Homo sapiens: one gene and its partners. The protein of the gene in region 7 purifies or fractionates together with the protein of the main gene of each other region. This does not show direct contact. Each region holds a gene or a part of one and is shown on either strand. Other genes may lie near its edges. The genes, in order: GZF1, TRUB2, DDX55, KRR1, CHD1L, YBX3 and NEIL1.

Region 1 (4,091 bases), on a different chromosome or scaffold from region 7:
TCTTGTCCTACAATTCAATCAAGTTGATTGGAGTTGCTACTCTAGAATAGTGATATATATCCATTGTCAACTTCCCCTTTATTCTGATAAAGATCCATAGAAGTGTTCCTTTGAAAATAATCCAGCAGTTCCTCCAAACAGAAGTTGTGAAATTATTTTCTTGTTTGGAATGAGTAAATTTCTAAAATGTGAGCCAGCTGAACAAACAATACCTCTTTGATTCTAGTCAAATGGAATTTTTCTTGCAATTTCCAAGGATATTTTACACCAACTTTCAGTAAGTAGCAAGCATCTTACATGAATATATATTTTATGATAGTTTTTACTGGAAAATGTAACATGCTGCCTACCAAGGCACTTTTGAGTTCACGTGGGTTTTAACAGTGGAGACCTACTGTTCCATGTGTTTTTAATGCCTGTATTGTTTATGACTTTATTTCATTTTCTCATGTAGGTGAAAGACCTTTTATGTGTGAAACATGTGGCAAGAGTTTTGCTTCTAAGGAGTACTTAAAACACCACAATAGAATCCATACTGGATCCAAACCCTTTAAATGTGAAGTATGTTTCAGGACTTTTGCCCAGCGGAATTCACTGTACCAGCATATTAAAGTCCACACAGGTATGGTTGGAATGTCCCAGGGAAGGGAGTTTAGTTTGGCCAAAAAAAAAATTCTAAAGCTTGTAGATTTACCAGTAAATTACTTGGAACTAAGCTTTTGAAGAAAACTGGCCAAACTTTGTATGTCATAATAGCATTTCTTTAGAGATTGTTTCTAACTCTGAGAAACTGAAAAGTGGGAGCACTTATGTGTGTAAACGGGAGAAGACTAAGTCCCTTTGCTACATGGAGTTTTTACTGAAAAGGACAGACAGCTTAGTCATGGTGTGAATGTAGGAAGTGGATGTGGATGTGTGGACATAGGGATAATGATCTGTACATGTTAGTAAATGCACATGCACACATGCATATTCAGTTGTTAGGGGTCTTGTAATTTTATACTCCATTACCATGGAAAACAGGTGTCATTCCTATAGTTATAATACCTGCTGCAGGCACATGTCCTGGCCCCTTTTTGGTGTAGGCCATAAATTCTTGGTATTATAGAGATAGTGGATTTGTAGCCCTTAAGTTGTTCCCAACATAACCTTCCTTATGTTGGATGCTGAGGCTTCCCAGTGGTTTGCAACAGCATCATTCACTCAAGTGTGTATTCAGAATTAAGCACAGTAGGCCAAAGGGACCCACCAGCAGTCTCCTCTCTCCCTGCCTCAGGGGAGCGTCCCTACTGCTGTGACCAGTGCGGCAAGCAGTTCACCCAGCTCAACGCCCTCCAGCGCCACCGCCGCATCCACACAGGGGAGAGGCCATTCATGTGCAATGCGTGCGGACGGACATTCACCGACAAGTCCACTCTTCGGCGGCACACCTCAGTAAGCAGTGGGTTGGCTTATTTGAGAAACAAGCTGCTGCCCTTAGATGCACGGAAAGAGAAATACCTACCACCATTCTCCAAGGTGGTTAGAGGTCGAGACAACAGGTACTTTCTCCTTGGGTTGTCTCTGCAGTGGAACGCTCACGGAATGAATGAAGTGGAACACCAAGCCCCAAGGCCCAGGGAAAGCACCATCCACGATGACTACTCTGTAACAGTGAGGGTGGTGGCAGGCGGGTACTTATTAGTGAAAGTTGAAAATTGAAGTTGTAGAGGGACTATTGTTTTAAAAGATGCACTTGTCCAGAGACACATTCAGTGACCTTTGTTTTGTGTTTAACTTATAGATACACGATAAGAATACTCCATGGAAGTCTTTCCTTGTCATTGTAGATGGCTCGCCCAAGAACGATGACGGACACAAGACTGAACAGCCTGACGAAGAGTATGTGTCATCCAAGCTTTCGGATAAATTGCTGTCTTTTGCAGAAAATGGCCATTTCCACAACCTGGCTGCAGTCCAAGACACTGTACCTACCATGCAGGAGAACAGTTCTGCTGACACAGCCTGCAAGGCAGATGACTCCGTGGTGTCCCAGGACACCCTCCTGGCCACCACCATCAGTGAGCTTAGCGAGCTGACCCCACAGACAGACTCGATGCCCACACAGCTTCACTCTTTGAGCAACATGGAATAAGAGCTTCAAGCAGTTCCCATCCTGTTAGTCTGCGTGTGTGGTAGCTGAACTCAAGATGATGTGGGGCTAAGAAAAATAATTGTCCATGTGCAAAGATGTGGGCAAGAATGGCCTCTGCAGATTTTCCTGAACTTCTGCTAACTTGCACGGCTTTATCACAGCATTTTTAAAGCTTTCCCTCAAAAATCCTGATCTGCATGATCTCAGCTACTTTATTGACAAAAAGGCAGTGAACATAACCTCACTTAATTCTGGTGTAGGGTGTATGTGCTAATCGTTCTAATTCTTGATTACCTAGTTTATAGATAACTGCTGGTCTTAATTGCAGAGTACAGAGAACTGAACCAGCTCCTGATATTGTAGTTAGCAGTCTTCCTGGCTTCTCACTCTGCCTTATATTTCCATGTGGGTTTACTTCTCTCATAACTACTTTCAAGGTATTTTTCTTCCAAGCTGAAATAAAACTGGGGCCACATATTTTCAGTCATTTCTTCCCTGTTGAATTGAAGCAAATCAGATTTTCTGTGGGGACCCTCAAATGCAACTGAAGAAATAGATTGTTGCATTCATTCCTCCCCACCCCCCATTTGTAGGCAGTAAACAAAGTATGACTGACAGATTGAACACCTGCAAAACTGCTAGCGTAATCTCAGCACATACGCAGCTAGGAAGTTTGTCATAAAATCAACTTAGAAATGAGATGAGGCTGTTCAGTTTGTCTTAAAAAAATCAGATTAGGTAAAAGCTGTCCTACCAAAGAGTCTAGCAAAACAATATAGTATTTTTTTGCAGAGGCATGAAAAATTAAGACGCTTTAGAGTACTTGAAAGTTGTGTAGTCATTTTATTTGCAAAATGAGGTGACTGTGGCAAATTATAGAACACAGAGTATTATTACTTTTGCCAGGTTTTTCTGACTTGATTTCTGTAATTTCCAGAAACCCAGACTTCTCATTTCCACACCTAGAGATGGAAACAGGCAAGTAACTGACATGTCTATTTCCTTGGGAGCATGTGAGAACATAGCAGTAGGGACCAAAAGTCTCAGCACACTTACCTCCGATTATGCCTTAAAGAGTTGATTGTGAAGAACCAGTAACTTTGTCCCAAATGCTTCTTTGGCTGTTTCATGCAGGACTTAATTATTGCTTTTAAAAATTCACAATGAAAAGACGATTCTGCTGTATTTGTTAAACGTTGACATTTGGTTCTAGGGCCTTGAGTATGTGCCACGTGCTTGTGAAATGCTATGATTCACATGTAACATTTAAACATTAATTTAAAAAGGGAACCTTGGAGAATTCTTTTGTTCACTAGTTCCTTTTTTCTCTACATTTTTAATTTATTAAACTTGCTGTGAAAACACTTTGATTTTCTAAGAGGAAGGTACTTTAAGTTCCAGAATGAACATGTAGCTGCACTATGCCAGAAATTAATGAGGGAAGACTTTCTTCCTAAGTGCTTATGTTTTAACTTATGTTAGTGAAACCACTACAAGGTGTTTCAGGCGCTGATAACATGCTTCACACCTGCCCTTGGAGGTCACAGTACTAATTTACTTCAAATTTAGTTATGACAGTGTCACTGTATCCTAGTTATGTTTACAGCACAAATAAATAATGACTGTCATACATCCAGAGGAGACCGAACCTGCCCAGCTGATGTACTGTTTTATGGAATAAAGTCACTTGATCAGAAGGAATTGAAACAATAGATCATTTTGTTACCTACTGGAGGGATTTTTGTCTTGAATTTGTTTCCTTAGAAATTCTACAAAAAAATGTTGTTAATAAATGTCTGCTTTGTAAAAGCAGTTTTGCAATTTTTTAAAGATCTATTTCTGTTATAATTTAGGTTCTGCAGAAATATGATTCTTAATTGAAACATATAATTTGCTTAATTACGTGAATAATGAAATGTAAAATCCGGGTCCATAAGCCTTTATTTCATACAGTCCT
Region 2 (4,091 bases), on a different chromosome or scaffold from region 7:
TGCCTTGGCCTCCCAAAGTGCTGGGATTACAGGCGTGAGCCACCGAACCTGGCCTTTTTTTTTTTGAGATGGAATCTCGCTCTGTTGCCCAGGCTGGAGTGCAGTGGTGAGATCTCAGCAAACTGCAAACTTCACCTCCTAGGTTCAAACGATTCTCCTGCCTCAGCCTCCCGAGTACCTGGGATTATAGGCGTGCACTACCATGCCCGGCTAATTTTTTGTATTATTATTATTTTTTTTTTTTTTTTTTGAGACGGAGTCTCGCTTTGTTGCCAGGCTGGAGTGCAGTGGTGCAATCTCAGCTCACTGCAACCTCCGCCTCCCAGGTTCAAGCGATTCTCCTGCCTCAGCCTCCTGAGTAGCTGGGACTACAGGTGCCTGCCACCACGCCCGGCTAATTTTTGTATTTTTACTAGAGACGGGTTTTACCATATCAGCCAGGCTGGTCTCAAACTCCTGACCTTGTGATCCACCCATCTCGACCTCCCAAAGTGCTGGGATTACAGGCGTGAGCCACTGCGCCCGGCCTCTTTTTAAAATTTAGAACAGTAGCCAGGCGTGGTGACTCACACCTGTAATCCCAGCACTTTGGGAGGCCGAGGTGGGCAGAATACCTGAGGTCAGGAGTTCCAGACCAGACTGGCCAACAGGGTGAAACCCAATTTCTACTAAAAATACAAAACATTAGCTGGGTGTGGTGGTGTGCACCTGTAATCTCAGCTACTCCGAAGGCTGAGGCAGGAGAATTGCTTGAACCTGGGAGGTGGAGGTTGCAGTAAGCCAAGATCGCGCCACTGCACTCCAGCCTGGGCGACAGAGCGAGACATCGTTTCAAAAAAAAAAAAAGAAAAGAAAAGGAAAGGCTGGGCGCGGTGGCTCATGCCTGTAATCCCAGCACTTTGGGAGGCCAAGGAGGGCGGATCATGAGGTCAGGAGATCCAGACCATCTTGGCTAACATGGTGAAACCCCGTCTCCCATCTCTACTAAAAATACAAAAAAAAAAAAGCCGGGCGTGGTGGCGGGCGCCTGTAGTCCCAGCTACTAGGGAGGCTGAGGCAGGAGAATGGCGTGAACCCGGGAGGTGGTGCTTGCAGCGAGCTGAGATCGTGCCACTGCACTCCAGCCTGGGCGACAGAGCGAGACTCCGTCTCAAAAAAAAAAAAAAAAAAAGAAAAGAAAAGGAAAAGGTCAAAGACTGACGAGATGGAGAGAAACTAGAGTCTTTGGAAGTGACGTTACATTTGAGCTAGGCAAGCAGGGGAGTAGAGGATGCTCCTGGAGCACAGATCCCGTGGCCAAAGCCTCAGCCCAAGCCTAGTGTGTGCAGTGGAACTGAGAAGGGGCCAGCGTGGCCTAGGGCGGGGAGAGGACTCAGGGAAAGCAAATGCGGAGGGAGGCAGCGGCAGCCACTTCCGGTTCTCACCATAGGTTGTCTTCTCTACCAGCCTCCCGTCCTCACGGAAGTCATCTGTAGCTTTGCCCAGGAGGCCACGCACTGTGTAATCCTTCAAGGACAGGGAGGTAAAGATCCGTCAGTGACCCCATTCTAAGCCCTAGTAGCCCCTGCCCCAGAAGCTGGGGGTGGGGGGTCCTCAGGTCTCCCTCAGGAAGCTCATGTGCCCAGCCCCTGCCCAGCTGCTCCACAGCCCCAGGAGGAAGGGCACCAGCTCTGTCATGTGGCCTTCAGCAGCTCTTGCTCTCTTTGTATTCAAGCTCTCCTGTCACCTGGGGACAGTAACAGGGCCAGTCTCACAGTACTGCTGCCTGGATTCAGCAGGACATGGTACCTGGCTCCCAGTCAGCAGGCTTCCTACAAGACTGCTGGCTGGTTTCCATGACAACCAGCACTGGCAGCCTCCAAAGGTACTGACCGCTGACAGCCACCCTGTGGCCACCCCAGGCCTCCATGTTTCTCCTCTCCAACCTAACTCGGCAATTTATCACCCCGAGCCCCTTCTAGCATGCCCTGTAGGCTTCTCTCCACGCCTCTAAATAGAATGAGATTCCATGGCCCAGATCAGGCCCTTGCTCATCCCTGCTTGTAAAAACTCCCCCTCCTCTGAATCTGTGCAGCTAACCCCATCTGCCACAGATAAGTAATGATTGGCTGGATACAGTGACTCACACGTATAATCCCAGCACTTTGGGAGACAGAGGCGGGTGGATCGTCGAGTAGCTGGGAGGACAGGCATGCGCCACCAGCCTGGCTAATTTTTTTGTATTTTTAGTAGAGACAGGTTTTCACCATGTTGTCCAGGCTGGTCTTGAACTCCTGGCCTCAAGTGACCCACCCACCTCAGCCTCCCAAAGTGGCAGGAGCCACTGAGCCCGGCCACAATTTTTAAAATTTTTATAATTTAAAAAAATTTTGTAAATAGAGATGGAGTCTTGCTATGTTGCCCAGACTGGTCTCAAATTCCTGGGCTCAAGCAATCCTCCTGCCTCAGCCTCCCAAAGTACTGGGATTACAGGTATGAGTCACCACACCTGGCCCTCATTCCCATTTTACAGATGAGGAAACTGAGGCACACAGATATTAATTAGGTAATCTACCCAAGGACACACAGCTGTCAGAGTGGTAGAAGCTGGGGTTCAAACTGAAGCCATTTGGCTCCAGAATTTGTGCCCTTAACCACTAAAAACATGGGCCCCATAACGTGGCACCTGCGTACATACTTTGTGGTATCAGACTCCATAGCCCCGACCCCACCTCTGGATGGTAAGCTCCCTGTGGGTAGGATGCTGACATCTACCTCTCAGTCTTGGGACAGAATAGGGAATGGCATCATGATCAAGCTCTGGTGTTGGAGAGACCTAGGTTCAAATCCCAGCTCTTAAAGCCCTAACAACTACATGACCTAGGTAAGTAACATCTCCTCTCTGAGCCTCAGTTCTCTCATCTGTGAAATGTGGCTAACAACAGATTCCACTTTACAGGGAGGCTGTGAGGCTTCCCTAAAGGAATCCACGTACAGTGCTCAGCACAGAGTAGTCGGCATACACTAACACTGGTAGTTATTATTGTTATTATTATTACAGCCCCTGCACAGCACACGATCATCAAAAAAATGCTTGCTTATGGCTTGGGTGTTCCCCCACGGAATCCTCTAAGCTTCAGAATCCTGCTGGTGACCCCCAGGAAAGGACCAAGGGAGAAGCAGGCTGTCCCCAGACCCTCGTACCTTGGTAAGATGAGCATTGTACATATCGGTGAGGAGCCTGCATCCATGTCCCACGCCGAGCACTGAAAAGCAGCCAGCGTCATCTCACACCTGGGACCCCCTTCCCATTCCCCTAAGTATCCCCACCCCTACCCCCACCATCAGAATACTCCCTTTTCTGATGCTGCCAAAGGCAACAAGAAGGCAAAAAGATCTTCTACAGGGGGCAGGTGCACCCCTCTGGGTATATATCACATGCAGATTGCTGGGCCTTACCCATATGCACTGAATCTGACTCATGGTTGGAGGGGGCCTAGGATCCCTGCCAAGCTCTCCACAGGATTCTGACACCTGAGAGGAAGAGATCCCTGGCCTAGTCACACAAACCTGCACTCAAATCAGGGACAGCTCTGAGTATAATCTTTAGCCTCTTTGAGCGTCAAGTTCCCCATCAGTAAAATGGGGGTAAAAATACTGTCTGAAGGCCAGGCGCAGTGGCTCATGCCTGTAATCCCAGAACTTTGGGAGGCCGAGGCAGGTGGATCACCTGAGGTCAGGAGTTTGAGACCAGCTTGGCCAACATGGTGAAACCCCATCTCTACCAAAAAATACAAAATTAACCAGGTGTGGTGCTACACTACACTCCAGCTTGGGCAACAAGAGTGAGACTCCGTCTCACAAAAAAAAAAAAAAAAAATTAGCCAGGCGTGGTGGCGGGCACCTGTAATCCCACCTACTCGGGAGGCTAAGGCAGGGAGAATTGCTTGAACCCAGGAGGCGGAGGTTCCAGTGAGCCGAGATCATGCCATTGCACTCCAGCCTGGGAGACAGAGCAAGACTCTGTCTCAGGAAAAAAAAAAAATACTGATTCCTGTGGGTGCTGTGCAGTCGGCACAGAGGAAGGGCCCAATAAACGGTGGCCACTGTGG
Region 3 (4,596 bases), on a different chromosome or scaffold from region 7:
CAGGCGTGGTGGCTCACATCTATAATCACAGCACTTTGGGAGGCCCAGGTGGGTAGATCCCTTAAGGCCAGGAATTCCAGACCAGCCAGGCAACACAGGGAGACTCTGTCTCTACAAAGAAAATTTTTTTAATTATGTGGGTGTGGTGGTGCATGCCTGCAGTCCCAGCTACTCAGGAGGCTAAGGTAAGAGGATCACCTAGGCCCAGGGAGGTCGAGGCTACTGTGAGCTGTGACTGTGCCACTGCACTCCAGCCCGGGTAACAGAGCAAAACCCTGCCTCAATAAATAAATAAATAAATAAAATACAACCAGGGTTGGGAGGTGATGTCCTCTGATGGACAGATTCCAGTGATGTTGTTAAACATCCTACAATGCCCAGGACAGCCCCATAACAAAAAATTTTCCAGCACAAAATGTCAATAGTGCCAACAGTGAGGACCCTGCTTCAGGCCATTGCTGTCCAATAGAAATAAAATGTGAACCACATAAACAATTTTAAATTTTCTAATAGCCATAGTAAGAAAAGTAAAAAGAAATGGGTGAAATAAATTTTAATATTTTATTTAACCCAATATATCAAAAATATTGTCCCTTCACATTTAGTCAATATTTAAAAATCAGCATTTTCCATTCTTTTTTCATACTAGGTCTTCAAAATCTAGTGTGTTATTTGATACTCAGAGTACACTTTGATTTGGACAAAGTGTATTTCAAGCACTTGATAGCCATGTCTGATGACTGTGTAGTGGATGACAGGTCTAGACAATGAGCTCTGAGGCCAGAGATTGGGTCTTGCTCGCACTACATTCCCTAGGCAGGGCACATAGCACTCCCAGTTTTCATCTCCAGCCCTGCCTGCTGGAAATACATTCTCCACATTCCCGGGAATCTTATGGGCATCTCAAACTCAAGACTTCATTTATTTAAAAAAAATTTTTGTGATGACAGGGCCTCCCTATGTTGCCCAGGCTGGTCTTGAACTCCTGATCTCAAGTGATCCTCCCACCTTGGTCTCCAAAAGTGCTAGGATTACAGGCGTGAGCCACCGTGCCCGGCCATTATTTATTTTAATTTCGAAGATGCGGGTCTCACTATGTTGCTCAGGCTGGTCTTGAACTCCTGGGCTCAAGGGATCCTCCCACCTCAGCCTTCCAAACAAATGGTACTACAGGCGGGTGCCACTGTACCCAGCTCAGTGTTTAAAAACAGGACTCTTGTGGTCAGGCGCAGTGGCTCACTCCTGTAATCCCAGCACTTTGGGAGGCCAAGGCGGGCGTACCTGAGGTCAGGAGTTCAAGACCAGTCTGGCCAACATGGCGAAATCCCGTCTCTACTAAAAACACAAAAATTAGCCAGGCGTGGTGGTGTATGCCTGTAACCCCAGCTACTTGGAAGGCTGAGATGGGAGAATAGCTTGAACCCGGGAGGCAGAAGTTGCAGTGAGCCGAGATCGTGTCATTGCACTCCAACCTGGGCAACAGAGAAAGATTCCGTCTCAAAAAAGTTAAAAACAAACAAACAAACAAAAAACAAAAAAAAGAACTCTTGACTTTCCCTCTGAAACCTGATACGCACGCCAGTCATTCTTGGGAAATGGTAACACCATTCACTCAGCTACTAATAAAAATCAGCCGGGTGCGGTAGCTCAGCCTGTAATCCCAGCACTTTGGGAGGCCAAGGCGGGTGGATCAGGAGGTCAGGAGTTCAAGACCAACCTGGCCGAGATGGTGAAACCCCGTATCTACTAAAAATACAAAAAATTAGCCGGGCATGGTGGCAGGCACCTGTGATCTCAGCTACTTGGGAGGTTCAGGCAGAGAATTGCTTGAACCCAGGAGGCGGAGGTTGCAGTGAGCCGAGATCGCGCCACTGCACTCCAGCCTGGGCAACAGAGCGAGACTCCATCTCAAAAAAAAAAAAAAAAAGAATAAAAACCTCAGGTCCTGTAGTCTTTTCTTTCCTAACCTCCACTTCCAGTCCCTTAGCAACCTTAAAGCTATCCCAAATGTGACTTCTCAGTATCCACTGGTTCCACCCTACTCCAAGTCACCATCATCTCTTACCTGACAATGGCCTCCTAAGCGACCTGCCTGCTTCATCTCTTATGCCTGGAAAGGCCACTCTCTACAGAGAAATCACAGCCCTTCCCTTCCTAAACATCCTCCCAGATAAGATGGCTTCCCACTACATTTAGAATGAAATCCAAGCGCCTACAAGACCCTGCACAATCCATCTCTTACACTACTCTTGATGTTCAGCCACAAAGGCCTCCTTTCTGCTGCTCAAACTATTTGCAGCCTGCCGCAGGGCATTTATGTGCACTGGTATTTCTCTCCAGTGGAATAATCTCCCCCTAGTCACCTCAGAGCCAGCTCCTTCTCAATCACTGAGGTCTCAGCTCAATGCACCTCCTCAGAGAGGCCTTCCTTAACACCCTATCTCACCTCCTCTGCAGTCCTCGCGCGACACTATCACAACCGTCTTAGTTCTTTCATAACACTTACCAGCAGCTGAAATTATCCTTTCTCTAGCTCTTGCACTAGAAAGTAAGGCTATGAGCAGATGCCAATACTGCAAACTCCCCAGAGCCTAGAAGAGTTCCTGACACATAGCAGGTCCTCAAGAAATATTCTTGAAGAGATGCATAACAACGGTAACCCTTACTGAGCTCCCATAGTGTGCCGACTGGTTTATTTAGTCCCCACAGCAACCCCATAAGGAGGGTGTTATTTTTTCGTCATTTCACAGAGAAGGAAAATGAAGCACGGAGAGGTTAAGCCATTTGCCCGAGGTCTCACAGCTACAGCGAGCAGGGCCAGGATGAGAACCAGGCTTGAGACCACAGCACCCGAGGGCGGGGTGGGTCGCGGCCCCTCTGCCGGCTCGCTGGCCGGGCAGCTCCGCATTCCGCCAGTCTGGGCAGCTGGAGACAAGGCAAGAGCCCCAGCTGGAGGGATGAGCGCCCCAGGGCTCAGATCTGTCCGATCACCTCCTGTGGGTCCGATGCAGCGGGTGCCTGCCCCTCTCCCAGCCTCACTCCCCCACGCCAGGGAACCGATACCTGCACCGGCGTCATGTACGGGAAGCCCAGCTCCCGCAGCGCGCCCAGCACCTGCGGGTGCAGCGGCACAGGCAGCGACTCCCAGGAGCCCTCTGTCACATGCTCCATGGCGCGCTCCTTCGCCGCGTCGGTCGCCGCTGCTCGAACGCGCCTTGTGCACCCCCAACGAGCACTTCCGCTTCCCGCAGCTCCAGCGGCCGGCCGGGAACTTCGCTGGAGCAGCAGAGTTCCGGAGCGCGGCGAAGGCTCCCACGCCGCGGGAGGGAGGAAAGGCGTCCGCGGGACGGTGGAGGCAGGCGGCGGGGCAGGCCTGGGGAGTTACACCCGCTCCGCACAGCGCCCTGGGCTCCGGGCGCCTCTCCGCACCGGGCAGGAGTTTTGGCGGGAGGGATTCTGGCCCGGCCCTCCCACTTTCTCTGCCCCTCGGAGGCAGGTGGCAGCACAGGACCGCGTCCAGGCCGAAGGACAGCGGGGCTGGCTACCGTGGGCAGAGAAACGTGTCGGGGACCCGGGTTAGCAGCCCTGCAAAACAGGCACCCGCTGATGGCCGGTACGTCCTGAATGTTGCGGTCCGATGGCCGGTACGTCCTGAATGTTGGTTTACTTTCCCGGAAGTTAGGGTCAGAGTCCTAACTAAGAACACTGTCCCATTCCTCTGTTCACTGTTTGCCTGGGCCATTCATGTCCACATACAACTTCACTCAGAAAGCTGTTTTTGTTGTTGTTGTTGTTGTTGTTGTTGTTTGAGACGGAGTCTCGCTCTGTTGCCCAGGCTGGAGGCTGGGCGCTATAACGGTTCACTGCAAGCTCCGCCTCCCGGGTTCACGCCCTTCTCCTGCCTCAGCCTCCCGAGTACCTGGGACTGCAGGCGCCCTCCACCACGCCCGGCTAATTTTTTGTATTTTTAGTAGAGACGGGGTTTCACCGTGTTAGCCAGGATGGTCTCGATTTCCTGACCTCGTGATCCGCCCGCCTCGGCCTCCCAAAGTGCTGGGATTACAGGCGTGAGCCACCGCGCCCGGCCTTCACTCAGCAAACTTTTATTGACCACTCATTATGTGCCCTCTATGAGGGCCTATCTCCTCCACCTATGTGCATGGCTTGCTCCTGTTGAGGCTCTGAAAACGAAACCCCAAAATGAAGGCCCCAGAGGCAGCCTCAGAAGCAAGTTTCTCTCTGACCTTCTGCTCCCTCTCTGATCTCTGATTCTCTGAGGCTAGCCATAGAAACTCAAGAATCCCTCTTGCCCATGACGGAGCATAGAAACAGGAATCCCTTTTCTCCACAGTCAGCCATAAAACCTAAAAATATTACTCTCTCTCCACCTTTCTGTGAAAAAACTGGCCATAAAGAAATTATTGGCCTGGCACGGTGGCTCACGCCTGTAATCTCACCACTTTGGGAGGCCAAAGCGGGCAGATCTCAAGGTCAGGAGTTCGAGACCAGCCTGGCCAATATGGTGAAACCCCGTCTCTACTAAAAATACAGAAATTAGCCAGGCGTGGTGGCGCATGCCTGTAGTCCCAGCTACTC
Region 4 (4,091 bases), on a different chromosome or scaffold from region 7:
AAAGAGAAGAAAAAGTACAACTTCTGATAATTCCTCTTTGAGAGGCATGACAGCAGAGCTCAGGGATCTTCTTGCATTTCTACAGAAGATGCACTGGCTGCCCTGGGTTTGTATCTTTCACAACAAAGAGTCTTTTCCAAGCACAGACCAGAGGTCAGGAGAGGACTGTCAATCCAGTTTGCACTGAAATAGGCATTAGCTGCCTCTAAATTATAAATTATCTCAGCCATCCCTTGTCCTTAGGATTAGTAATTAATGAAATGCTAAGAGAACTGATGAAAAGATACAACTGTTTCTTAAAAAGATTCAGACAAATTTATTATGGGTTTACTTTTCCTAATTAATAAAGACTTTTACATCATAGAAAGCATTACCTTCCTTAGGTTTCACAATTGGTTTTTCCTTAGGTGGAATAAATGCTTTGTTTCTTTCCTCTTGTCTCTTACTGATGGCTTCTGCTTGTTTAGCCTACATTAATAAATAAAAAATATATCAGTTAAATGTATTTATAGTTAAATAATTCAAGTATCTATGAACTTTGCTATTCATGTGAGCCAGACATAAAGTGCCGTACCTTTATTGCTTCCATTTTCTGCCGCTTCTTCTGATTTGCCTTCAAAAAGTATTCACCACTAGCCAATTCTTTATCGATCTGTTGAAAACGGTATTTACAATTACATCAGAAATAATGTAGAGGAGAAGTCATGTCCTAAGCAAGTCACAATATCCTTAGGGTAAAAACAATGGGGTCAAACTGATTTATTAATAAAAATGGTAGTGACATAAAGGAAACAGAGTCTAAGCTGAGGGGAATACATACACAAAAGTGTGGAGGTAGGAAAGCACCTCCATGGAATACAACCCAGAGTAGTTCAGGGATATGGCATGGAAGGTCACTGATTCAGAAAAGTGTGAGAAGAAACTGGAGAGAGAGTTTTGGGGAAAATTTGAAGAAGCTTCAATGGCAGACAAAGTAGGAGGGATAAGATTTAGAAATGACTGTAGGTTTCTGAGAAGACTGTAAAGACCAAAGAATAATTTTAATGGAGAGGAATGAAGAATAGATGAGAGCCTGGAATAAAGGTAGTGGCATGCAGAATAAAAGCCAGAACTATCAGGAATTGGTGACTAATTAGCAAAAGCAACAGCTTGTTCATTCAATATACAGCCAACATGTAAAATGTGTATAACTGACCTGTCTCCCACTTACATAGCATTATTATATCTAAGGCACTGTTCTAAGCTCTTTATAATTACTCATTTAATCCTCACTAACAATTCTTTAAGATAGGTATTACCATTACTCCCACTTTAGGTATGGGGAAACTTAAGTATGGATGGGATAAATAACTCGCCCAGTCACATAATGAATTAAGTGTTAAGAACAAGTCAATCGAGACATCACTGTTTCAAGAAGCTTACACAGCTACAGAAGAAAGATAAGTCAATTACTACAAGAAAGGGCCATAAGAAATAAGGCAGGTGTTATGGAAGCATGGTTTAATGACTGCATCACTCCACTTTCCCCCTAACTACTATCAATTTCCTCCATGATCCAAAACTTCCATTGTTTTTTCACTATGATCATCATTTTCCCCGTCAATCACAAATCTTCCCTGAAAGACTCCAACCATGGTTGTGGAAAAAAGAGATGTAGAAAGCAATGAGTTCACATGCTGAGCAGAAGTAGAAAGGGAAGGCTTTAGGATATAGCCAAGGAAGGGAATAATGAAGCAAGAACCCCCAGGAGACAGGTGAAGATGGAATTCAAAGAACACATAGAAGAGGCTGATGCAGGTGGAAGAAAACCCATACGTGAGAGAAGAGGAAACAGAAAGGGGTTCTTATCTGGTGGTCTCAAATATTTCAATAAAATGCAATGTCATATGCTAAACATGGGAGGGCACTGAGAGAATTAAGAGGAAACATGAATTTTGAATGAAATTAATCCAAAGATAAAACTTTCTCTAACTTAATTTGGTAGCCACGTTGCAAGGAAGAAGTCAAGTTTTTAGACTGATCCAAGTTTTAGAGCTTTGCTGAGAAGGTGGGACAGAAGTAAAAAGGGGCATGAATCAAAACAATGATGTGCAAGAACAAAATGGAAACTGGTCATGGTGGGAAAGGAAATGAAGCAGAAGACACCTGACAAAAGGAATCATAACTTAGAAAAACGGTGGGTGTTACAATTTACAATTTAAGATTTCAGAACAAGAACAACCATAGAGCACACAGTCACAATAATGTTGCCAAATCAGAGAAAAGAGTATTGCAGACTAAACGAACTTTTATCCATGGAACATTTACAGTGGCTACAGGGTCACAAACCTCCTGGATGCAGTTTATAATCAATGTGAACGCCCCACTGCACACCCCCATGCACTCAGCTCAAAATATGCCTATTTATATTTACCCTCAGTTTCTTATAGCTCTGCACACACACACACAATATATATATATACACATATCCCACCTGAAATACTTTCAATAAAGTTTCTGACCAAATACATTAAAATAGATTCTCCTTCATATGAAGTTCTACATTTAGTACTAACCTGACTTTCTGGTTGTGGTGGTGGGAATGGCGTATATTCTTTCTTAACAGTTTTTTTCTTTGGTTCCTTGCGTTTATTCACATTTTTGTGTTTGAACTGTGGCAAAAATCTCTCCCAACTTTGTGATCGTAATTCAGAATCTTTTGCCAACTCTCTCTTAATCATTAAGCTCTTTAGTCATGCAACAAAGTAAAAATTTTTACTTTCCAAAGTCACACATTTGTCAGACTCAGACATTATAAATATTGCTTCTATAAATAATAAAAGAAACAGTTCCTAGTTTCTTTGGTGAAATTAAACCAATTACATAAGCAAAAAGGTAGGTTATCACAAACATGTATAATTATTAGAAAACCATTAGAAATTTAATTACAAAATGCAGAATTGTTAAAATGAGACAAAAATAAAACTGAATTTTCAACCATTATTTCATTAAAACATTTAAAATGCCACTTATAAAAGCAGGGAGGGCTCTTAATTAGCTGATGTTCCCTGCAAGCAGGAAGTTTTCAGTAGCAACTGAAATATCACAGAAAAAGACAAAAGTAAACTTTCTCACGATTACAGAAAACCAGTATTTTCACATTTCCCTATTCCATTTAAATTTCAGACCATGGAACATCAGAGGATGCAAACCAGGGATCAGACACATAGTTTTGTTTTTGTCTGCAATATCCCAATATCCCAATGTAACTCAAAATCACTTTCCCCCAATCTAACAGTGACTTTATAACTTAAGTTCATCAAATTTAAGTGGATTGCTCAACAAACCCATCATAAAATAGTTCTATATACCATGGTTACATTTCCAAGAATAATCAAACTTTGTGCACACAGGGATATAACAGTTCTCTCTCAAAGGAGCTACAATTTGAGTGTTAAATTCATAAAAAGGTTTTAACGCAACATGAGATGTTCCAGATTTTAATAGAAAAAGGCAGATTTCCGAAAGATCATATCCTTAAATACATGGGTTCATAATCTAAGAAAACTGGATTGATATGATCTACAACAGATTCTGTGAAGCTTACTTTCATTGATTACAACTATATAACATATTACAGTATCCCCTTCAGTAGTTTTCACACTGTGCTCCACAGAGAGCTTCTAAGAAGTACCTACAAAACTGGGGTAGAATTAAGTAGGCTGAAGTCTACCCCTAATTTACCCAAAATAGCTCTGCTTTATCTGTTTGTGCATTAGAATTTCATAAAACATTTAATTTCAAGAAAGGTTTCTGTAGCTAAAAGAAGTATGATAATCACTGGTACAGTTATATATAATTACCACTCACTTTAATGTTATAAATTGGATGAATATTCTTCATAGTATCAAGGACTACTTTTCTAACCTGAAATTTGCAAAGAAAAATGAATTAGTCACAAGGATTTTAATGAGCTATGGAGAAGAGGATTAATACTGCAAAAATCAGGTAATGGGTACCAAATTAAATAATGTAATTAAATAATTAAGTAGTTCCTTCAACTGCTCTGAGTGGCTTCTCCATCTTTCATAAAGGCAGTCAATCTCCCTTGA
Region 5 (4,091 bases), on a different chromosome or scaffold from region 7:
TCCAGCAATCCTCCCACCTCAGCCTCCCAAAGCACTGGGATTATAGTCATGAGTCACTGTGCTCGGCCATATATGTCAGTTTTTAACACAAGCATCTCTATTTTGATTCTAACCGCTTTCACATCAGCTTATGTAAAGCCATAGAATTAAATTAGCACATTTTTCTTCACTATCAGTTTTACTTGATTTGGATGGGGTAGGAAAATATATTATACAAACAGGTAGAGATAAAGTAGAATGTAATAATTTGAATGATTTAGGACAAGCACAAAACTACCAAAGGAATTTCAAGCTCATAGTGCTCCCTCCCCAAAGCCCCCCAGCTACCTCTGGGTTTTGTATTCACTTTCTGATGTCTACAGGGGTACTTTGTTGTTAATGTTTGAGGAGCATTAAATTAGGAGATCATAAAAATTCAGGAGTGAAGCAGGTGAGTACCCAGCTAAGAGGTTGACTGAGGCCAGGAAAGTGAGAAAGGGCTGTGTAGGAAGGTGGGTCCTGAAACCCAACTGAATTTGAAGAAGGCGAGATACGAGGAGGATTCATTCATTAGTGAACTTGGTGTTCTTTATGTTGCTCCTTTCTGTTTTACCTCAGACCTGAGTTTGGGAGGTGTCCTTTTATTTCCTGTTGATGATAAAGAATCAAGAAACAAAGGGCAAGATTTGGTAAGTAAAACCCATCTCTTCTCAGAACTACAAGTGGACTCACATCAACTTCTCTTGAAGTGTCCCCTGCCCCAATTGGCCTCTCTGCTAGTGTATTAGTTTGTTAGGGCTGCCATAACAAAAAGACACAGACTAGGTAGCTTAAACAACAGAAATGTATTTCCTTATAGTTCTGGAGGCCGAAAGTCCAAGATCAAGGTATCGGCAGGTTTGGTTTCTCCCGAGGATTCTCTCCTTGGCTTGCAGATGGCGGTCATCTTGCTGTGCATGCACAACCCTGGTGTCTGTGTGTCCAGATTTCCTTTCTTATAAGGATAGCACTCAGAATGGATCAGGCCCCACCCTAAACCCTTGTTTTAACTTCATTGCCCCTTTAAAGACTCTGTCTCTAAATACAGTAAACATGAGGTACGGGGGGTTGGGGCTTCAATATATGAATTTGGGGGGACACAGTTCAGCCTATAACAAGCAGATTGGGCCATAGTCTCCACTGTACTTCCCCTGTCCCCAGGCTTCCATCCATCTGTCCCCGGAGCACCGTCCAGATAGCAGATCCCATCTTAAGTACGAGGATTTCTATTTGTCTTTTTATCCTCAGTACCCTACATAGTACTAGCTCATAAGAAATGCTCCATAAACATTTACTGCATGAGTAAGAAGGCATGACTCAGAACTCTGACGGTTTCATTTCTTACTATGTGAAAATTTCTATGAAAGATTGTGTTTTCTAGTCAGCCATAATAAAGCAGGAGAGAGGAACTAACACATATGTCCTCTGCCCACATCAGAATCCTTTTGCATCTTAGGCATCTTGGGATGCCTGTAGTGAGTTTGATTTACCCCACCTACCTGGCTTTCTCCAAGGCCTGGGTTCATGTTCAGATTTTAAGCCAGAATTAAGAAATTTCAAAATCAGGCCAAAAGAGAGGCTCATCCTTTTGAGGTTGCTGTCTATGTGACTGTGTTAGGCTGTTTTTGCACTGTGATAAAAGAATTCCCTGAGACTGGGTAATTTACAAAGAAAAGAGATTTATTTGCTCATGCTTCTGCATGCTGTACAGGAAGCCTGATACTGACATCTGCTCCTGCTGGGGGCTTCAGGAAGCTCACAGTCATGGTGGAAGGCAAAGGGGAAGCTAGTGTATCACACATGGCAAGAGCAGGAACAAGAGAGAGTGGGGGAAGGTGCCACACTGCTTTAAATAACTAGATGTCATGTGAACTACCAGAGCAAGAACTCATCACCAAGGGTATGGCATTAAGCCATCCATGAGGGATCCACCCCATGATCCAATACCTCCCACTAGGCCCCACCTCCAACACTGGGGATTACATCCTAACATGAGATTTGGAGGGGGACACACATCCAAACTACACAGTGACTAACAGCAAAGTGGTTTCTGTTGAGTCATTCCTTCAGTAATTTCTAAAATGCTAAAAAAGGAGAAAAGTAAAGTGTCTGTGCATGAGAAACTCAGAATCCAGTGATTCAGGAAAACTGTTTACAGGGAGTAGAGCACCATGTCTATGATATGACTGTGGTGATGTCATCCCGGAAGCTCCCTTGACACTCTCCAGCTCGCCCACTTAGGTTAGGATGGTTGAGAGATACTTGGCATTTTGTCCTCATGGGAATTGTTCGAACAGAGATGGAATGACTGCTTGTCCTGGGGGTTGTGGAGCTGACTCAGGCATCAAAGGGCTGGGATACAGGAGCCTCTAAGATCTTTTCCATGCCTACAATTCAGAAAAATTCTCTTTTTTTTTTTAACCCTTGAGAGCTTTTGGAAAGTATATGTTTTGGACTCATTCTCTGGTTTTAAAGTATTTTAAAAAGAAGAAGAAAACCCTGTATAAAGTGACCACAAAGTAAGAATTATGACGGGATATGAAGTCATACATATAGTAGGACATTGCTGTTCAGGCATAGCATCCGAAAGAGACAGAGCCAAGCCCAAGTGACCCATCAAGGGCTGTGCCGCCTCCATGGGCGGTCACTTGGTTGAGTGTGGCTGTTTCATGTTGGGTTGGTCATCTAATGGTGGTTCTTTCCAGTTGGCCTTGATTGTGGCTCAGCATCGTGATCGTTCCAATGTCCTGTCTGGCATTAAGATGGCAGCCCTAGAAGAGGGCCTGAAGAAGATATTTTTAGCAGCAAAAAAGAAGAAAGGTAAGCTCTTCCACCTGTGCTCAAGAGTAGATGAATTTGTTTCTAGGCATGTGATACGACTTTTGAAGGGAGGTAAGAAATGTCAAGATCCCACTTAATATGCACGGTAAAGGCAAACCACAGAAGTGATCACCCCACCGTCTTGTAGTCATATAGCCCCTTGTCCTTTCCAAAACACTTTTAATACCGGTTATCTCTGTAGGCCGTCTCCATCCCCCGGGTATTTTTATCGTGATTTTACAGATGAGGTGGCAGAGGACTAGACATGAAGCAACTTGGTCATATGTAGTTGGTAAATGCTGTTTATTTAATCTCCTCTTGGAGAGTCACAGTTCCCAATAACAGACAGTTCTTCGACAAAAATTGAGTTTAGTTTTGTTTCGAAACCTAGTGTGTCTCAGAGCTTATTGAATTGATTGGCTTGTTAGAGAATCTTTGCTTATTTTAATTTTGCCTCCACCAATCATAATCTATTTCCAATTGTATGTATTTCCAGAACTTGTAGGTCCTTGTGTTCAACAGAATAATTTAATTTTTCTTACTACAATTCTTCCCCCGGAATATTTTTGACATTATAATTATGGGCTTTGAGGGAGATAGTCAATAATAATTTTCTCCCATGTGTATTTTATACCCATCAATCAATTTTTGATGAGTGAAGACATGTGTTCTTCTCTTCATAATAGCAAGTGTTCATCTTCCACGTATTGGACATGCCACGAAAGGTTTTAACTGGTATGGTACTGAGCGACTTATTCGGAAACATCTGGCTGCAAGAGGCATCCCAACTTACATGTATCCTTTTGTGATCTTCATTGTGTGTTCTCCCAACCCAAGAGGGAAAATGTGTTCATTTTCTGGTGTCAGTTCTTAATCCAAGACCAAGTTTCTTCCTGCCACAGTCTTTACTTTCCCCCTCTTCAGTGAGACAAAGAAAGAAGCACTTTCTAACTTGTGTGTATCAAATATGTACACCCAACAGGATCAACACATCCAAGCATTTCTGGATGCCAGCAGATAAATTAAAAGATACATGAAGGGGAGAATTAATTGAGCAATTGTTAATTTGGTAACATATTGAGTCTGTCACATCACTTCTCTAGAGATCCTTCAGGTCTGTGGAACAAGGCTTAATTCTAAGAACTTCACACTGTTCATTTTAATGAACAGTTAAGCAAACAAATAAGTGAACTATTTTATTCCTGAACCTTTTTGATGTATTGTTAAAAAGCAGTATGAAATTTATTTTAACC
Region 6 (4,091 bases), on a different chromosome or scaffold from region 7:
AATTCATGCCTACTACTGAACTCAGACATGAACTTGTCAATTTCCAGCTGTACATTTCAACAGGAATCCAATTTTTTATCATCTCAAGCTTATATGCCTAAATTTGTGAAACAGCATTAACTTAACTTTACATTTGGCTTTGAATTTACTATTAATCAAGTCAAGTAAATCAAGTGGTGGAGAAGACAAACACACGCTAAGGTCGGCAAAAATACACTCCCATTAAACATTCTGTCCTCTGAAGGGTAAAAATTTTATTTTTGAGGAATTTCTTACTGCACATTTTCAAAGAGAGTCACATAAGAAAGCAAAAATGTTATCCTCCCCTCATCCTAGAAATAAATAAGAAGGACATAAATTTTTTTTTTTTTTAAATCATGACACTTGGAGGTTTAGCACCAGCATCCAAAATGAACAAAAACGGAAAAAAAAGCATTTACTATATATTTCAGATTTCTTTGGTTGGGGTTCTCCCCATGTGGTATTAATATTTCTTGTTTCAATATATATATTACCAAAACAGTAAAAACCAGGAAAAAAAATAGAAACCTAGCGGTTGCTGAAACTGGAGAGGCTACTCTCTTGTCTTCCGTGCAGGAATTCCCAGGTTCTCAGCTTGCTGGAAAAATTTGTTGACATTTTCTTTTTGTAGTTGTTTCTTAAAGAATAACAGTAAACATTCCAATGTCCAAATCTTGGTTAGTCTTCCACTTTATTGCTTGGATGTTTCTTTGGTGTTGGTTAAGGTTGTGGCCTGCTTTTTGCTTTATTTCTGAATGGTCATTAATTCTTTAGGTCACCTGGGAAAAATTAAAATCAAACTTATAAAGAGTGACAAAGTAACCATGAGTTAAAGAATAAAAAGGCAGAAATTATATGCTTTTCATATAATTAGAAAAAGAGTACTTCAAATGCTCTAAATACAATCACATCTTGTATAGATCTGTAAGCTATATGTTAATTAAATGGAAACTCTCACTTTTTAATAAAGTATTTTTATAAACCAGAAAAGTCAGTACATAAGAGCAAAAATTTTATAAAATTGTATAAAAGAAAATTACCATTACTAATGAACAATACTCAAAATCATTTTAGTGGCTGCACCCTATCTCCTAATATGAATATATCACAATTAGCTATTTACCAAATGTCAGACAGACTGTAAATTGTAAAAATATTTTTTCCCAATATTTAAAATTATTTCCTTAGAAACAATACCTAGAAATAATGTTACGCCATAAAAGGGTATGGCCATTTTTATATTATTAATATGTTACTCTGAATCAGCTAATTCCAAGTTTGAATAGGGAACTTATTTCTGTGACAAACTGTCCATGCTACCCAAGATAAAACAGAATATTGTCCTCAAAGTGAATGCTTACCTAATTAATGGCTGATTAAAATCCCACATCACTGGATATAAAAGCAGATGGCCTTAAGACACAAGAACTTATAATAATCCCAAAACTTCATTGATGAAATTTTAACAATTTTTGAAAAATAGCATTGACACTGAGTTTACAACCTCTCTCTTAACTAAAAGCTAATGGAAAGGGTGATAACCAAGAAGTATAAGAACTAAAGTCTCAGTTAAAAGGGTTATAGGTTAAAAAAAAACAAACCCAGAATTTATAATTGAGTTGATCTTTCTGGCTATAATTCTATGTAAATAAAATGTCCAAGACCTTTAAAAGACAGAAAAAAGTAGAAAATGACAAGAAAATAACAAGCTATCCTTTTACGAGAGGTTATTCTTTACCATACCCTATTGTAAACACTCCCTGTTATTTCACTTAATAATCCTTGCAACGACCCTAGTAAATATAATTAGTATCCTAATTTTTACCAGTAGCAGATAGTACTGAGACAGAGGATAAACTGCTCAAGATCACCCAGCAAATGAGAGGTACAGTAGAGCCTGCAATGGGTAGATAAACCTTGGCTCTTATACACTATGCTGCACCGCCTCAAAATAAATAAAGTTGATTATCAAAGAAAAAGGGAAGGAAAAAAAATCCTTTAGTTTATTCTACTGTTTCTGATTACTAAACAGGTTCTGAAACTGTTTCTGATTACTAAAACCAGGCCTTTGTTAGGGACTTTTAGCATCAGTTTTCCTAAGTGGTACTAGTAGTTAAAAAACTGCCTGTCTAGAAAAAAGAAGTTGAGTATCATCAACTCTGTCTGAATGCTTATACCCTCACCAAAGCTTATCAAAATGAGGTCAATCCCAGAAATATTTAACCACCAAATCACTTTTTCCACAGAGTCCCAATAGAGACAAGGGGTTGGCACAGATGAACTGCAGAACTAGTTTAGACTAATTTGTACTCTTGTTGAGAAACCAGTGATACTAAAAAGAAAATACCAACTCAAGACTGGGCTGCCCCAGCTCTTACCTGCCGATGGTGAAGGTGCCTGAGGAGCCTGGTGTTACTCAGCACTGCTCTGCTGGGTGGGTGGAGCAGGGTTCTCAGTTGGTGCTTCACCTGCCTTGGCCTAAAATGCAAAACAAAGCCATAAATCAGATAAAGTCAGATGACAGTGGAAAGTTCAAGACTGAAAGTTCTTAAAAGTTTGAATTTTCCTGTGAAGGAAAATTAGCATGCAAAAATTTAACTACTCTTAAGTATGAGTCACAAATTAGTACCATATTCAGTCCCTGGCATCTCTACCAAAACAAAACGAAACCAAAACCTCACAAAAACAAAAAACAAAACAAAACAAAATTAGTACCATATAAGAACAGCTTACAAAACGGCAACTAAATACCACTACTCTCCATAAAGTCTGATATACAACTGCTTTCAACTCATGCTTAGAGGCAGCTTCCTCTTGATAAATGCCTCTCTTCTTTGAAGAACCCCAAATGTTTTAGCTCTGAATCCCCATTAATATGGGTCATTCTTTCAGAGAATGTTAACTGGATTCAAATATGTGGTCTGTGTTATGTACAAGGCATACCCTATATATATGGATCTTGAGCAAAATGTTTTTATATTTGTTAAGTGTCAGGTTTCATGTGATAAAACCACTTTTAGAATGCTAAAGTCTGACATGATTAAAGACTATCTGGCAACATCCGCCCTGACTGGTTGGATTTACCTCTTTGCCATCTTGTGAAGGAGCGTTAGGAGGACGCGGGCGACGCCGGTAATTGTAGGGACGCCGGTATCCACGGCGAACAGACGGCTGGTTTGGACCACTGGTGGCTTGCTGATTTTCTTTATCTTCAGCCTCTCCAACTGCTGGGGCAGGTCGTGGGCGAGGAGGTCCCCTGCTGTAGGGAACACAGAAGAAAATAGAACAGGTGCCAACAGGACAGGGCTTCTCCAGAAAATAAGGTTTTATTTATTTTTAAAAATTAAAAAGTCAAGTGATCAGGGCCAGGCATGATGGCTCACCCCTGTAATCCCAGCACTTCAGGAGGCTGAGGCAGGCGGATCACTTGAGGTCAGGAGTTTGAGACCAGCCTGGCCAACATGGTGAAACTCCATCTCTACTAAAAATACAAAAATTAGCCGGGCGTGGTGGCACATGCCTGTAATCCCAGCTACCTGGGAGGCTGAGGCATAAGAATTGCTTGAATCCATGAGGCAGAGGTTGCAGCAACCCGAGATTGGCACACTCCAGCCTGGGTGACAGAGGGAGACTCCATCTCAAAATTAAAAAAAAAAAAAAGTCAAGTGATGAGTACTTATTGCTAGAATTATTCGCAGGTCAATGCAACAAATGGAATAGAGGTTTCACGAAAAAAAAATCTTAATTTTCCATCATTTTCCCCTTTCATTTGAATACATATTTGTAAGGAACATACATATACTGAACACATACTCTGTTCCTATCAGGCCCTTTGATAAGCACTAAGAATAGGAAAATTAAAAAAGAAAAGAAGAGTAGTCTGGTATCTGCCTTCCATGAACAGAATTTAGCAGAGACTAAGGGAATTAAACATGAGAAGAAACATTATTATGTGCCAGAGCCTGTGCTAGTCGGTTTTAAAATTAAATATTTAATTTGAATGGTAATTCTGTGGATGAGATTTATAACAAGAAAACCAAGAGGTTTACATGATAAAGTATACGGCTGAG
Region 7 (4,091 bases):
TCACCACCCCAGTTATTGTGACCCCACGTTTCCACCCATCAGCCTCCTGGGGTCTCTGCCTGTGTGAACAGTAGGGCCCAACCTGGAACCAGATGGTACGGCCATGCCGGTCCTGCAGGGAGCTCATGCCTGGCATGCCATAGCAGCGCAGCCAGGCTCGAAAGGCAGCAAAGTCCTCCTCCCCGCTCTCTGACCCGTAGCCTTTGCCCCCTGTGGGACAGAGGAACAGGCAGAGATCAGAGGGCAGGCTCAGGTTGGGAGGAGTGGGGAGCCTGGTTAGACCTGGCCCAGACCTCAGCTACACAAGCTGATGGACTGAGTCAGGGGCCACACTCTCCCTCCTCTGGTGATGTGACCTCAGCTGGTTTCTTCCCACTCGGCCATGGGTTTCCCATCCTGGAGTGGGATTAAGAATCCTTGTCCTGGCCCTGTGCAGTGGCCACACCTGTAATCCCGACACTTTGGGAAGCTTAGATGGGAGAATCCCTAGGGGCCAGGAGTTCAATACCAGCCTGGGCAACATAGGGAGACCCTGTCTCTACAAAAAAAATTTTTAACAATTAGCCCGGTGTGGTGGTGTGAGCCTGTAGTCCTAGCTACTTAGAGGCAGATGTGGGAGGATCACTTGAGCCCAGTTTGAGGCTAGTCCAGGCAACATGGCAAGATCCTATCTCTACCAAAAATATATATAAACGTGCGTGTGTGTGTGTGTGTGTGTGTGTGTATAAATATATAAAAGAATCCTTGTCCTGCCTGTCTCATGGGCAGCTTGGAGGAAACACTGTTTTTTTGTTTTTTTTTTTTTTGAGATGGAGTTTTGCTCTTGTTGCCCAGGCTGGAGTGCAATGGCACGATCTCAGCTCAACTGCAACCTCCACCTCCTGGGTTTAAGCGATTTTCCTGCCTCATCCTCCCGAGTAGCTGAGATTACAGGTGCCCACCACCACACCTGGCTAATTTTTTGCATTTTTAGTAGAGATGGGGTTTCACCATGTTGGCCAGGATGGTCTCGAACTCCTGACCTCAGGTGAGCCACCCCACTCGGCCTCCCGAAGTGCTGGGATTACAGGCATGAGCCACTGCGCCCAGCCTGGAAACACTATTGACAAGTGAGGAGGCCTAGTCCATTGAGTATCAGCTAGGGCTACAAACTTCCAAATCGGTGAATCAGGTCCAGAGAGGGACAAGTGCCCCAGGGTTACACAATCATTTGCTGAAGCAGAGGTTGCTGCCATCTTTGGCCTCACCCAACTGGACCACTTCCTTGGGCACTGAGTGACATAGCTCCAGCAGGTCTGGATTCTGCAGCTTGGTCCTTATCTTCTGGCTCAGGGTCAGCTCCGGGCTCTGAGGAAGGGGCAGGGGCAGGACCTGTCTGTCAGCAGGGCCATGTAAAGGCAGCTGACCTTCTCTCTGAGCTTGGTCAGACTTTGGGCAGTTCATCCCCTCCCCACCCCTGTTGTTGAGCTAAGCTGGGGACACCTGACCCCACCCATCTCCTTGCCGGCCCATGTGGACACCAGTGTGCCAGCACGTGTGCTCCATCCCTCTCTGGGCTTACCGGCCTGTGCTGCTGCAGGGCCTCCAGGACCGAGCGGGCCTTCTCAAAGGGGGGGATCTTCAGCCTGTAGTGGGGGCAAGGCAAGCCATGCTAGGCAGTGGGGAATGTGGGCACACCTGGCCCACCGCAGTCCCCATGCCCATGCCTGCTTGCTGACCGGTACAGGATCTCTGCCCGCAGATAGTTGCCAATGCCATTGAAGAACCTCTGGTCCAGGAGGGCCTCGCAGATGGGCCGGTCAAAGGCCTTATCCGCTAGGTTTCGTAGCACATTCTCCCTGGAGGAACACGGTCTGGGTGCGTAAGACCCATCCCCACCCTCCATGGGATGGGGAGAGGGGCTCAGAGAACCTGTTTCTGGGTGCAAGGGGAAGGAAACTGGGAGTTACAGTTCCTCTTCTCCCTGCCCCCGTTTTCCTATCTGTTAAATGGGAACATCAAGGGATTTAAATTCATTGTGAAAGGACGGCCAGGTGCAGTGGCTCATGCCTGTAATCTCAGCACTTTGGGAGGCCGAGGCGGGCAGATCACTTGAGGTCAGGAGGTCGAGACCAGCCTGGCCAACATGGTGAAACCCTGTCTCTACTAAAAATTCAAAATTAGCCAGGCATGATGGTGGGTGCCTGTAATCCCAGCTACTTGGGAGGCCTGAAGCAGCAGAATCTCTGGAACCTGGGAGGTGGAGGTTGCAGTGAGCTGAGATCGCAGCATTGCACTCCAGCCTGGGCCACAGAGCGAGACTCCATCTCAAAAAATAAAAACAAAATTAAAAATAAATTCATTGTGAAAGGTGAAAAATACTGATCTAAAGTAACTTGAGGCTGGTGTGGTGGCTCACACCTGTAATCCCAGCATTCTGGGAAGCTGAAGCAGGAGGATCACTTCAGCCCAGGAGACCAGCCTGGGCAACAAGGAAGACCCCATCTCTACCAAAAATTTAAGAAGTAGCCAGGGGCTTAGTGATGCACTCCTGTGGTTCCAGTTAATCAGGAGGTTGAGGTGAGAGAATCACCTGAGCCCTGGAGGTTAAGGCTGCAATGAGCTGTGATGGCGCCACTGTACTCTAGCCTAGGCAACAGAGCGAGACCCTGTCTCAAAAAAAAAAAAAAAAAAAGCAACATGAGGTTGTATATGAGGTTGTGTGTTTATCACCTCAGACTCCTCAGGACATGAGAACAGTGTGGCCACAGGACCTCAAGTGTGTTTGCAGTCTGGAGCTCCCTGTATAGCATTTGTGGTGGGTTAGAGACCATATGTGGGTTTGCCATTGGTAGGGTCCATTCTTCTCAAGATCCTGGACATTGTCTGGCTCTGTGCAGGAGATATGTGGAGTACCAGTGAGGGCCCTAGCAGCCCCCACCCCACCTCCAAGGGTCATGGGTCTCCCCTCCTCACCGTGAAGAGGATGTGCATCTTGTTTCTTTGCGGAAAAGGGTCATGGCAAGACTGACTAATGGGTGTGATGAGTGGGTCAGAAGACAGAGTTCTGGGGTGAAGGTACAAGGGTAGCCTGGGAGGTGCCCTGATCCCTGAGGTAAGCCAATTGCCACACGCCCCAGCTGGGGGACTAAGAAAACAGCCCAAATGCTCGTGGTTTGAGAGAAACTTCAGAGCCAGCTGGCAGAGTTAACTTGTGGCGTGACTCCCCAGGAAGGCTGAGGTGGGAGGAATCCAGGACCAAAGACAGATGTTTCCCTGGGGATGTGCTTGGAGTTCACACAGGGGAAGGCCAGGAGTCAACTTTCTTCTAAGGCACCAGAGACATCTCCAACCCATCCCACAGGTATCCAAGTCTCCTAAGGGTCAACGGACGCACAGCATCCCCCAGAAAGGGAGAACTTGCCAACCCTACTCCAGGCCTCTGCATTTGTGACTCTTGCCAGTTCCAATGCCTTCCTCTGGCTGGCTCCTTCTCATCAGTCAGGCCTCAGCTCAAACCTCCCTAGAGTGGCCATTGCTAATGTACCCCCACCCTCGGCCAAGTCATCCTCTACCTCCTTCACCTGTTGGGTTTTCCTAAGGCATGGGTCCATTTCTCATTCCCCTATCCTATGTGAACATCAGTTCTGTGGGAGCAGGGACCACATTCATCTTGTTCACTGCTGTACCCCGAGCCCCTAGAACAAGGCCTGGCATGAAGCAGAGACTCATACACGTTTCCTCTTCAGAGGAAAGGAAGTGGCCAACACTGTGCCATGTGAGGTGACCTGCATCACATCCCAGGTGGGGCTGTTACACCCTACTGCAGGCAGGGAAGTGGCGCAGAGGAGACCACAGGACACAGAATACTGGGCAGGCCGGATGTGGGAGACCACAAAGCCCAAGGCGGAAGCCATGTCATGAGATAGTCCCCTCCCCATCCCCTTGAAACAATTCCGCTCAGCCTCACTTACCATATTAAAGCCCCTCCACCTTCTTAGCCTCCTGGGAGCCCTGAGAGGTGGTGTGGGATTGTGGGTGGGAGCCCCAGCTTCTCTGACACTAACTGGCCACATGTCCTCAGGGCAGTACCTACCCATCCTCCTCTTGGC

What was found.
Region 1: the proteins of NEIL1 (region 7) and GZF1 purify together in Homo sapiens (affinity purification with mass spectrometry; one large-scale study listed by BioGRID and IntAct). This does not show direct contact.
Region 2: the proteins of NEIL1 (region 7) and TRUB2 purify together in Homo sapiens (affinity purification with mass spectrometry; one large-scale study listed by BioGRID and IntAct). This does not show direct contact.
Region 3: the proteins of NEIL1 (region 7) and DDX55 purify together in Homo sapiens (affinity purification with mass spectrometry; one large-scale study listed by BioGRID and IntAct). This does not show direct contact.
Region 4: the proteins of NEIL1 (region 7) and KRR1 purify together in Homo sapiens (affinity purification with mass spectrometry; one large-scale study listed by BioGRID and IntAct). This does not show direct contact.
Region 5: the proteins of NEIL1 (region 7) and CHD1L purify together in Homo sapiens (affinity purification with mass spectrometry; one large-scale study listed by BioGRID and IntAct). This does not show direct contact.
Region 6: the proteins of NEIL1 (region 7) and YBX3 purify together in Homo sapiens (affinity purification with mass spectrometry; one large-scale study listed by BioGRID and IntAct). This does not show direct contact.

The regions. Positions count from the first base shown.
Region 1 is NC_000020.11:23,368,308-23,372,398, forward strand, and holds part of GZF1 (GDNF-inducible zinc finger protein 1), read left to right. Parts: intron 1-454; coding exon 455-622; intron 623-1,276; coding exon 1,277-1,434; intron 1,435-1,783; coding exon 1,784-2,134; 3' UTR 2,135-4,091. UniProt on the Homo sapiens protein: Transcriptional repressor that binds the GZF1 responsive element (GRE) (consensus: 5'-TGCGCN[TG][CA]TATA-3'). May be regulating VSX2/HOX10 expression.
Region 2 is NC_000009.12:128,312,384-128,316,474, forward strand, and holds part of TRUB2 (pseudouridylate synthase TRUB2, mitochondrial), read right to left. Parts: exon of another isoform or gene 3,443-4,091; coding exon of another isoform or gene 3,439-3,442; exon of another isoform or gene 3,246-3,438; coding exon 3,184-3,245; exon of another isoform or gene 3,041-3,183; intron 1,865-3,040; exon of another isoform or gene 1,715-1,864; intron 1,523-1,714; exon of another isoform or gene 1,507-1,522; coding exon 1,425-1,506; exon of another isoform or gene 1,168-1,424; intron 1-1,167. UniProt on the Homo sapiens protein: Minor enzyme contributing to the isomerization of uridine to pseudouridine (pseudouridylation) of specific mitochondrial mRNAs (mt-mRNAs) such as COXI and COXIII mt-mRNAs.
Region 3 is NC_000012.12:123,600,724-123,605,319, reverse strand, and holds the start of DDX55 (ATP-dependent RNA helicase DDX55), read right to left. Parts: upstream 3,222-4,596; 5' UTR 3,172-3,221; coding exon 3,064-3,171; intron 1,473-3,063; exon of another isoform or gene 1-1,472. UniProt on the Homo sapiens protein: Probable ATP-binding RNA helicase. Has ATPase activity and is involved in the maturation of precursor large subunit rRNAs.
Region 4 is NC_000012.12:75,501,349-75,505,439, forward strand, and holds part of KRR1 (KRR1 small subunit processome component homolog), read right to left. Parts: intron 3,907-4,091; coding exon 3,850-3,906; intron 2,727-3,849; coding exon 2,556-2,726; intron 2,516-2,555; exon of another isoform or gene 653-2,515; coding exon 575-652; exon of another isoform or gene 469-574; coding exon 375-468; exon of another isoform or gene 1-374. UniProt on the Homo sapiens protein: Part of the small subunit (SSU) processome, first precursor of the small eukaryotic ribosomal subunit.
Region 5 is NC_000001.11:147,290,885-147,294,975, forward strand, and holds part of CHD1L (chromodomain-helicase-DNA-binding protein 1-like), read left to right. Parts: intron 1-597; coding exon 598-668; intron 669-2,723; coding exon 2,724-2,838; intron 2,839-3,524; coding exon 3,525-3,633; intron 3,634-4,091. UniProt on the Homo sapiens protein: ATP-dependent chromatin remodeler that mediates chromatin-remodeling following DNA damage.
Region 6 is NC_000012.12:10,698,855-10,702,945, forward strand, and holds the end of YBX3 (Y-box-binding protein 3), read right to left. Parts: intron 3,281-4,091; coding exon 3,106-3,280; intron 2,500-3,105; coding exon 2,434-2,499; 3' UTR 2,400-2,433; exon of another isoform or gene 2,398-2,399; intron 801-2,397; 3' UTR 235-800; downstream 1-234. UniProt on the Homo sapiens protein: Binds to the GM-CSF promoter. Seems to act as a repressor. Also binds to full-length mRNA and to short RNA sequences containing the consensus site 5'-UCCAUCA-3'. May have a role in translation repression.
Region 7 is NC_000015.10:75,349,858-75,353,948, reverse strand, and holds part of NEIL1 (endonuclease 8-like 1), read right to left. Parts: intron 2,649-4,091; coding exon of another isoform or gene 2,573-2,648; intron 1,918-2,572; coding exon of another isoform or gene 1,839-1,917; coding exon 1,719-1,838; intron 1,626-1,718; coding exon 1,562-1,625; intron 1,348-1,561; coding exon 1,248-1,347; coding exon of another isoform or gene 1,207-1,247; exon of another isoform or gene 967-1,206; intron 339-966; exon of another isoform or gene 264-338; intron 211-263; coding exon 83-210; intron 1-82. UniProt on the Homo sapiens protein: Involved in base excision repair of DNA damaged by oxidation or by mutagenic agents. Acts as a DNA glycosylase that recognizes and removes damaged bases.